Linked DNA regions of Homo sapiens: region 2 is linked to region 1. The links come from fine-mapping of genetic effects on gene expression. Tissue or cell type: whole blood. Region 1 holds a variant in brackets; the other region holds the start of a gene. All regions are shown on one strand. Distances are between the middles of the regions.

Region 1 (5,383 bases):
TAGAATAAAGAGACAAATGGGTAACTCTAAGTAGGTTCATCACATTCATTACATGCCCTGTATCCAGAGCCAATATAAATGGTCTTGATTCTGATTGTGTTGAGGTATAAAAACATGCTGATTTCTGTGGCAGGTATTAATGATTATTACTTGTGTATTCATTTGCTCACTGCTCCATTCTGGATGTTCTTGGTCTCAGGGCCTAAGGATCATTTTCTCGGATGCATCACGGCTCATCTTCCGGCTCAGTTCCTCCAGTGGTGTGCGGGCCACCCTCAGACTGTACGCAGAGAGCTACGAGAGGGATCCCAGCGGCCATGACCAGGAGCCACAGGTACAGAAACAGCTGTGCTCCCAGCAGTGTGTCTCGCAGCTCCTGGCAAATTTAGAGAGCTCCATGGGCCTTTAGTGGGGCTATTTTACCTCCTGGAAAGGTACATGATAATTTCAGCTGGAGGACAAGCTCAGGGCAACTCCAAGCAAGTTTAATTCGTTCATTACAGTGTTTGAAACAGAAAAATTGCTCTCTCGCATCTATTTGTAATCCGTTTAGACCAGCATTTCCCAAACAACTGTCCTCTCTTGACTGTTGAGTGGTTTGTTAATTGGGGTAAAGAAAAAGCACCTTTTATAGACAAGGAAATTTAGCGTTAGAGTCAAACTGGTGAAACTCTCAGAGCCTTGACTACGCTTATGTAACTTTTGAATCTCCAGACATTTGGACCATGACCTTGAGGTGCCAATACAGATGGGCTTTGTCTCTGAGATTGCTACATTGTCCACTCTGAGAGGAGAGGATATAGGTGGCCTTTTAAGTTAAGGAAGCACATTGACAAGGCTAAGCCAGACTGTTTGGCAAAGTCTCCTCATGTTTTCAACAATAAGGCTAATTAAGAACTCAGAAAAATCATAAATAACACAACCATAAGCCTCTCCACTCCCACATTCATTAAAGCTCCAGCCAACATTAATTAATACCAGAAATGACTCACTTTAATGTTGGGTACTTCAAGCTATACAGCTGGCTGCTCCTGTCTTCTTGGTGTCTTCAATCTGGGTTTTGAAGCAAGGTCCTTGATAAGATGATTTTTTCAGATGAAAACATTGGTTCTACCTGCCATACTTCCTTTGTGGAAAAGTAGAGAAACAGAGAAATACTCACTGCTACTCATTTTAGAGGTGCTCAGAATTTCTAGCTATAATTTGCCCTGATGGAGTAAGATACCTGGCAGGCTTTTCTTTCTTTGTCAGTAGTTTAGGGGTTTTTTTGTTTTGTTTTGTTTTGTTTTGTTTTTTTCATGGTCTGTTTCTTTGGAGAGTCTCAAAGAACTTGGCAATAATGGGTGCTACAGATCCTTACACCTGACCCTACAGCCAGAAGATCTGTCTGGAGTAAAATCATCCTAGATGGGACAGGAGAGGCTGGAGGAGGCTGAGAGCTATTCTCAGGGTTACCAAGAGCATGAGTGGGCAAAGCAGGTGGCCAGCATGAAGCCCTTGGCTCTTCCTCTCAGGATCATAGCCTTTCCATGCAGGGGATGGGACACACTCTGCCAAAATAATTGGTTAGTGCGTACATTTCTCCCAAGATAGTACCAAATCATGCAAGAATTTGGGGCTTACCCTGTCTTTCCAAATAAAACACTATTCTACATCTCATGTTGGGGAGGGAGATTAAAGCAGGGGCCTAAAAGTCCAGAGCTACGTACGTGAGGAATGATATTCCTGGCCTCACCAACTCTGACTCACTCTGACTCCGGGCTATTTTTTCCTCAACATTCTTTTCCCTATTTGCACAGGGCAAGTGGCTGTGATATTTGCTTATTTTTATTTACCCTCCGCACTGGACTGAGACCAGGCCATTAGACAAGTGTCACAACAATCCTATACACACAAGAGTCTCTCCCTGAGGCAGTCCACAAAAGCAGTGCTTTTTTTTTTTCTTTTCCCAAGGCTTCCTTTGAAGCTGAAAGTCTCCATCAGCCTACTCTTAGAAGGTCATGTGAGTAAAGGAAACATAAGTCATGCTGGTTTTGGTCCCCATGAC[T/C]GCACATTTCTCATCCTGTTGGTGGAAAGAATTTGCCACTTTGAAGGGTTGGCGAATCCCTTCACTGACGTTGCTGTTGGAATTTCTGATTTCCCCTCCCTTCTCCTCAGAAGCAAGAGTTTTCCTAGACCTGGCTCGATGGGCCCCCGAGTATGTAGCACATGATCTAGCTAAAAGTTTTACATTAAAATAGAACTCCTTGTTAAAATACCATACATCATTGACTCACCAACTTAAGCCCTATTGCATAATACATTTGAGTCAGGATATAACATAGAGTAAGATTTTAAAAGAAATCTAACCACCTAGGGGAAAGCAAGAAGATTCTCTCAGCAGGCCAACCTGTCTTAATTACTGCTGAACTCTACCTAAGCCTTTAAGTGGGAGCATTTTGAGGGCTCCTTACAGGGTTGCTTTCCAGGACCACCTGCTTCTGCCTTCTAAAAAGCCTTTGATTAACTGTTGAACAGAGATAAAAGTAAGATGTACTCCTGAAGCTGCTAGTGTTATTCCTGATCAGGGCCTGACTGGAAAGACCTGCTTGTGTTGCTTTCTCAGCTACCAAAAGAACCCCTTCCACCTTCTCTAATCTGCAGAGATTCCATTGCTGATCTTGTTCCAATTCAACAGGTAGTTTTTGATGTTTTACCCACTCTAACCCAATAGCCATCTACACTTAAATTATTTTGCAAGAGAACAGAGAGTTCCCTTCAACTGGCTTATTAATATCTGGCTATTTTACTTTGGCCATGGATAGTTTCTTTTCCAGACATTTTGAACACATGTGAACAGAGCATGTTTTAAGCATTTACACTGATTGCCTTGCAGACATACTCATAACAATCCTAGTGATGCAATTAGGAAAACTTGTGATATAATCTATATGCATTTAGACCATACTCACATGTAGATTTTCCATTTGCATCCTTTTGTAGAACAGTGATTATGCTATTTAAGTTAATATCAATTTCTTATCTACATCAAAAATATTTTTTAAAAATTATATCCATATGTGCCTACGAATTGGTGGTAAGGAGAGGATGGGCCGGGGAGGGCCCTGATGAGATGGGCAGGTTCTTGCCCTGATCCCACTCTGTGTCCTTGGTAAATCAGGAAGGAAAGCTTCCAAAGGCTTGTTGCTGGAAGACTACCTAGTTTTTTAAAATACAAGTTTATTTTAATTTTACCAGCAATCAGTAGGCCTTCAATGAGCCCTCAAACCAGCTGGTAATCATTTGGAAAAAGGAATGAGCCAAAAGGGTTTAAAATCACAGGTAACCAGAAACAGTACAATTGTTTCCGTTTTCTTTCCCATCCAATTTATTAGCAGGGCTGCTATTATTAGCTTCTCGTTGACCTTCTTCCCTTGTCCCTTTCAGCCTGTGGGTGGAGTAGTTAAGGAACAATAGAAGATCCAAAAGGAAAAGGAAGGAGAAGTTTTGTTAAGGGCTAGGAAAATCACAGACTGATAATCAGCCCGTGGCTAATCAACCCTTGGCTTTAGTACTTTCAAGGCAGAATACAGTCACACCCGATCTCACCCCAGTCCTTGGGAGGGGCCTGATTTTCCCCCAGTCTTCCTGAAAATTGAGGAATTTAAGTATTTGTTTGTTTGTTTGTTTGTTTGTTTTTTGAGAGGAAGTCTCACTCTGTGGCCCAGGTTGAAGTGCAGTGGCATGATCTCAGCTCACTGTAACCTCCACCTCTTGGATTCAAGGGATTCTCCTGCCTCAGCCCCCCGAGTAGCGGGGATTACAGGTGACCGCCACCATCCCTGGCTGATTTTGTATTTTTAGTAAGGACAGGGTTTTACCATGTTGGCCAGGCTGGTCTCAAACTCCTGACCTCAAGTGATCCACCCGCCTCGGCCTCCCAAAGTGCTGAGATTACAGGTGTGAACCACCACATCCGGCTTTAAGTATGTATTTTTGATAAACTGTACCTAGAAGGCTTTAACAACTAATACCTAAGAACCAGGTCCCTCATATTTATTCACCTGTCAAACCAAAGGTCATCTGTCATTTTGTTCTACCTGTTCTTAATAAGACTTTGTAATCCAGAAATAAAGTATAGAGCCATTTTGTTTTACATAGGAAGAACATATGATTTGTCATCTAAACCAGAATACAGATGCTCCTAGATTTACAACAGGGTTACACCCCAATAAACCCATCATAAGTTGAAAATGCATTGAATACACCTAGACTGCAGAACATCACAGCTTAGCTTAGCCTACCTTGAACAAACTCAGAACACTTACATTAACCTATGGTTGGGGAAGATCATCTAACACAACCCCATTTTATAATAAAGTGTTGAATATCTCATGAAATGAATACTGTACTGAAAGTGAAAAAATCGGTGTATGGGGACTCACAGTATGGTTTCTACTGAATGTGTATCTCTTTCACACCATCATAAGGTTGAAAAATCATTAAGTCGATCCAGCCAAAGTTGGGGATCTGTACTTTTGTGAGCGAAAGATAATAATTGTAATTATGTTTAGATTGTCCCCAATAAACCAGGAGACATGATTACTCTAGCTACCAGCCTGCATCCTCTCTTAGAACCGCATCTCTTTGGAGATGGCTTTCTAAGAAAACTAGCAATGAAACCTGGAAGGAAAGAGGGAACATACAGAAATGAGAAGAGTCAGCTCAGAGGTTCTCAACCCAGGCAGGCTGCACATCAGAACCACTCAGGCAGCTTGGTGAAAGTACCCATGCTTTGGCCCCAGTCCTAGAGATTCTACTTTAATTGTTTTGAGGTGGGACCTGTAGTTTTTAAAAAATTTCCCAGATGATATTAATTAGACAAGTGCATCTCAAACTAATTACCGGCCAATCACCTTGGGAATGTGTTAAAATGTGGATTCTGACTCAGGTATGAGGAGGGCCAGAGATTTTGCATTTCTAACAAGCTCCCAGGCAATACTGTGCTGCTGGTCCAGGAGCCACCCATTGAATAGCAAAGAGCTAGGTGAACTGTGAAGTGCTAGCAGCAGGACCTTGAATTCTTTAAAACTGTAGAATGAGCAGCACCTGTTTTTAATACCATTCCACACATCGATCTCTGTCTTCTAGACTTCTATTTCTGTTGCTTATTGGATTCCACCTGAATGTCTTATAGACATCACCAACTTGACATGTGCAACACTGATTTCCCGCCAGCCTCCTGTGCACTCCTCCAAAACAAACTCCAGCATGCTGTTTCTTTCATTCTTCTCCATCTCAGTAAATGGCAGTTCCTAAAACATGTTAGACCACCTCATAGCTCTGATAGAATCCTCCCCTCCACCTCATTTAGAGAAGAGCCCAAACCCTTACCATGATCTTG
Region 2 (5,383 bases), 39 kb after region 1:
TTTCGAGACTCAGTAGCTAGTTTCAAAGAAAATATACAAACATATTCATTTCTCAAATGATATCAACTGACAACTTTACACAGATTTCAGTTGTAGCCCTTTCTATGCCAGTAGGCTAAAGCAGCCATTCATTCGGGGGCTGATGTACTCATTGGTCATCTTGCCTGGCATTTCTAATTGCTAAATCCTCCTGGCTTCTCCATCATGAATGAATTTGGGGGAAGGGGAGAGGGGAGGAAGAGAGACCGGTGAGCTTGGCTGAGTTGTGTATTTATAGAGTGATCCTTCCAGTGCCTACAGGGAGTGTTTATGGTGTGTAACCACAACAGAACAGGGACTGCCATTTGTAGCCACAACTCCATTCCAAATGTTACCAGGCCCAAAGCCAGTAGCTGAAGAAGCTGTCTACTATAAGGCATAAATCTCAGCCTTCGCTCAGAATAGCCAAGGCTGAGTCACGGGGCACATGTGTAAAGGCATTTTACACAGAAAGGTGAGATGTTCCCTGGAGTGATGTGAAAGGTTCCAGGATGACTGCTGCCTGCCCCAAATCCCAGCTACCTCTCCCAACCCCACCCTCCTTCAACTGCCATCCATATTCCCAGTCCCCTGAATTCCATCATCGGAGACCCATTTGCTTTGATATCTCAACCTGGGTATCCATTTTGAGTGCAAATGCTTTGGAGAAATGTGACTTCCCAGGCTGACTTGCCAGCCATTCTGCGTGGGATAAGCATCTTATTACATGCAGCGAGAAGAGGCAGTAAAATGGGGGTGTTACGATGTCCATAATTTACTTTCAAACATTTCAGTATACTGTAATATTATGCAGTGTTAGTCAATTTAAGCTATATCCTAAAGGCAATCAGTTACATTTATCAGAAATTCACACTCTAGAGGTAGTCCTCTAACATTTATACAAAAAGAAATCATCACTCTAGAGGCATCTTCTACAATCACTTCATTTCTCTTAATTTTTAATCAAACCCAGAAACTCTGCTGGTTAGTATAACATTGGAAATAAGTTTTGGTTTTCATAATTATTATCTTATTAATTAGCATAAAGGATGCCAAAAGTGGATGCTCATGGGTAAGATTACTTATATTCAAGATACATGGAGTAGCTAAAATATTTTAGATACTTTCTACTCTTGCACGAAGAGGGCAAAATAATTATAGTCTTGTAGCCTGTATCTTGAGAATGATGCCTAGGGTGTTATCCCTAAATGGTCCTGTGGCTAGCCAAGAATTAGGAGGTTTCTTGTTGCCTGATACTGACTATAAGATTAACTGAATCTTTTTTTTCTTGTGGTAAAATATATATGACATAAAATTTACTGTTTTTAAGTGTATAGCTCAGTGGCACTAAATACACTCATATTGCTCTACAACCATCACCTTAAAACTCTCTACTCATTAAACAATAGGTCCCCAGTCTCTCCTTCCACCAGCCCCTGGGACCACTGTTCTACTTTCTGTGTCTGTGAATTTGACTACGCTAAGTACTCATGTAAGTGGAATTATACAATATTTGCCCTTTGTAACTGACTTGTTTCACTTAGCATAATGTTTTCAACTTCATCCAAGTGGTGGCATGTGCCAGGATTTCCTTCCTTTTTAAGGCTAATATTCCATTGCATGTATATACCACATTTTGTTTATCTACTCACCTGTTGATGGACATTTGGGCTATTATGAATAAATGTTGCTACAAGCATTGGTGTACAAACATCCATTTGAATCCCTGCTTTCAGTTCCTTTGTGTATAAACTCAGAATGTAGAATTGCCAGATCAAACAGTAATTCAATATTTAATGTATAGAGGAGTCTCCACACTGTTTTCCACAGTGGTTGCACCATTTTAACATTCCCACCAGCAATGCACAGCGTTCCAATTTATTGACATCCTCACCAACACTAGCTGTTTGGTTTTGTTTTTTGATGATAACTATCCTAATGTATGAGATGGCGAGAAAGAATGAATCTTGCCTCTAGAATATTATCACCTTCCCCTGAAGGAATGTTTTATGCAAGGTGAGATCACAACACCTAAAAGGACAGTAAACTGGGACTTTTCTGAGCTCACAGAGATTCCAGGACTCATTTTATGCCTGCTTCTTCATTTGTTGTGTGGCAGAATTTGGTCTGGGACTTGCTTTCCTTAGAACCTCATAGCCAGGTTATGGGAAGTAACTAACCATCACCTGCCACTAATTAATGACAGCTGCCATGATATAACAAAAGAGCCTGGGTTTCTAAATTGGCTTAGGTGGGTTTTCACTGGGGGTGGTGGTAGGGTTTCTCTGAGATGAGTTGCCCCTGCGTCATGGTTTTCCCCAAAGATGGCGCCACTCTTCCTAATAACAACCCCAGAGTAATTCCCTGACAATAAAGCTTTGGTTCTAGACAGACAGCCCATGGGACATGTAAGTCGCTCCATAGTAGGATCAGAAATTACTCAGATCTTACACAACTCAGCCCATCTCAGCCCTTCTTGGTCCCTCTGCCTGTCAGCACGTACCTGTCTACTGTGGCCACGGGCAGGGCCCCATGAGCAAGGTGTTGTCGGAGCATGTGCCTCAACACTCCTTTGCTTTCAGTCACCTGGCGATAGTTGCTCCAGAAAATTCCACTCAGAAGGATCACAAACCCCAGAGGCAGAAGCAAATAGGCCGCAATCAGGCTCCCCTGACAGTCGAATATGGAGCCCCAGGAAATGAAGAAGGCCCCCAGGCAGACCATCAGGAAACCCATCAGGAGGGCAAGAGCACAGAGAATGAGGCCAGTTCTGTTCTGCATCCTTGCACCTTAGGAACCCAGCACCCTGACCCTGCTGCTCCTCTGCTTCCCTGCTTGCTCCAAGAGAATGAGCTCATTAGCCAGCTTGCAGCTTTATATGCTCTGGGACCCACTGGCCTTTGGACAACTAAATGAAACAGGCACTTAGAAGCTATTCATTAACCATTGAAAGTAAGTGTAATATCCTTGGAGAATTAGCCAAAAAACATAGCATTGTATACTGCAGGCAGGAGTGGCTTCGTGTAGCTGTTTTGTTCTTCAGAGTTGGGTGGGACACTCAGCTGTTCCCAGTTATTTGAACGTACAGCCCTCCTTTGATTAAAAGGCGCTGGTCTCTTAATCCCCATGGAGGGCAATTCCCCACTAAAAGCTGGAGAAGTTAGCACTCTTTAAAGAACGATCTTCTTTGAGGTTTGGTAAGAAATCCCTTCCTGATTCCTTCTCCCTTTTTCTGTACTAAAAAGGCATTTCTTCAAGGCTGTTAACATGTTTGTCTTGCCTCCCTCAATGAATCCCCACTTATTGCCCCCACACTATGATACTGGCATAATTCCAAGACAGAAGTTCAGAGTGTGAACTTCGTGGTTCCTGCTCTGTTGACAAGATCGAAAGAGCCTGAGTGGGAGGGAAAGGAGAGTGCTGGAGAAAAGGACTATAATAGACAGAGCCTCGGGAATTTGGGGGGATTTTGGGCCTGTAATTCCTGCAATCTTTCCCCCTTTCATAAAGTACATATGAAATAGAATTCGTTTTAGAGGATGCTGCTAAAAATGTTCCCTGTCCTCTCCTCCACACCTCTGCTCTATGTAGCATTGCCTCAAAAAATCTTTCCAGAACCAGCCTTCTGTTTCCTGGCTGGAATTTGTTTTCTTTAGCTTGACTGTCTTTGATTGTGGATAGCTTATTTCAGACGTGCTTTATGCCCTGGCTCTGCCCTTTTTTATTTGATAATGTGGCATGTCTCTGCCAAAAGTCTCCTTCCCATAGGAACCCTGGGTTGCTTTTACTCAGGATAGCTTATCTTCAGTTCCTCTTTGCTGCTGTTCCACTCCACTACTCCATTACCATTATTTTCCATTTACTTTCCCAATGAGAGCAGCAGTTTTTTGTGGCGTGCCCTAATAATCCCTCATATAACCTTTAGTCTCACACTCACCATCTCCTTAGCTCTACCTTCATGTTAGGGCTGGGAGACACGGATATTAGAGAGGTACACACTATGGATCAAAAACTATATAAGGCACTTCTCCATTCCAACCCTTAGCCTTTACCTTTCTTAGCTTCAATTTCGACCTTGAACTACCTTGATCTTCTAGTCTTGATATTGTCTTTGTAATCTTAAAACAGCTCTTATTCCCTCCTTCCCCAAACTGTGAGATGGAATATTTCTAAGATGATCCCTAAGGATCCCACCTCCTGATATTCATGTCCTTGTGTAAGTAATCCTCTCCCCTGAGTGTAGGCTGGACCTAGTGACTTCATTCTAATCAATAGAATATGGTAACGGTGATCGGAAGTTACTTCCGTGGAGGCTACACAAGATTGTGGTTTTCATCTTTCTAGCAGACTCTCTCTATTGTCCTCTTGGCTTACGCCCTTTGAAGAAGGAAGCTGCCATATTGGAGAGGCCCATGAGGCAAGGAATTGAGGGCAGGTTCTGGCCAACAGTCACTGAAGAACTGAGGCCCTTAGTCCGTCAGCCCATGAGGAACTGCATCCTGTCAATGACCACGTGAGCTTGCAATCAAATCCTCATCCCACTGAGCCTTGAGATGACTCTGCTCCCAAGCATCACCTTGACTCAGTGACCCTGAAGTAGAGGACCCAGGTAAGTCATACTCGGATTCCTGACCCACAGAAACTGTGAGATAAAACGTTTCAGCCAGGGTCCTGGATGCCACAAGATGGCAAGAGCCATAATCAATGAATGCATTATGATCAAATCATTTCATGTTTATGGATGTCACTATTTTAACAAATAAAAGAGGTCAAAAGTTTAAAAAAAGTATATTTTAAAAATATGCTAAGTTTTGTGGCCATTTTTTAGATAGCAGTAGATAACTAAAAAAATTCTCTTAGAACTTTGAAAATCAGAAGAGACAATCAATGTTAAGTATTTATCATAGTACCTGGCACAGAGAGTGCCCTGTGAAGGTTATCTATAATCACCATCACCAATATTGTTATTATCATTGCTGTTACAATTCCAAAAATCTGTGGAAGACCCAGGACCCCCAGCTGAAAGGTCTGCACTAGGAGTTGGGTCCCAGGAACAGGTAGATGGTAAAGCCCCAGGATAATGTTAAGAATCAGGTGATGGAGGAAGAGTACTCTCAATCGGAACTGCCCATCAGACAGTTGGGCTTCTCTGTTTTAGACAAAAATGGAGGCAGAAATTAGACTGGGGATTATGACAGGTCAGGCCTCATTCTTGTGATCACATCAACACATGAGTAAATAAGTTTCTCTATACTTTTTCCTCCTCCATGCCAATAAAGTACACTAGAACCATTGCCTTATAGTTTGTCAGACAGTTCCTTCCCCTCCAGTGCCCTTTGAGGAGGCTCCTGTCATTCCACAGCAG

The links. PIP is the estimated chance that this variant, and not a neighbour inherited with it, causes the effect. A credible set is the group of variants that fine-mapping cannot tell apart.
Region 2: TMEM252 starts here. The variant in region 1 is the best candidate, but not a certain one, in a credible set for the expression of TMEM252 in whole blood (TOPMed, PIP 0.66).

What each region holds. Positions count from the first base shown.
Region 1 is chr9:68,499,028-68,504,410 of GRCh38, forward strand. It overlaps PGM5 (phosphoglucomutase 5), which reads left to right. Exons shown (of 11, transcript NM_021965.4): 10 at 200-334. LOC124902174 (a long non-coding RNA gene) reads right to left here and starts at 1,657. Exons shown (of 2, transcript XR_007061565.1): 1 at 993-1,657; 2 at 1-426. The variant T/C (reference allele first, on the strand shown) is at 2,048.
Region 2 is chr9:68,538,016-68,543,398 of GRCh38, forward strand. TMEM252 (transmembrane protein 252) reads right to left here and starts at 2,868. Exons shown (of 2, transcript NM_153237.2): 1 at 2,522-2,868. The coding sequence starts at 2,799. TMEM252-DT (TMEM252 divergent transcript) reads left to right here and starts at 3,010. Exons shown (of 5, transcript NR_187592.1): 1 at 3,010-3,215; 2 at 4,363-4,627.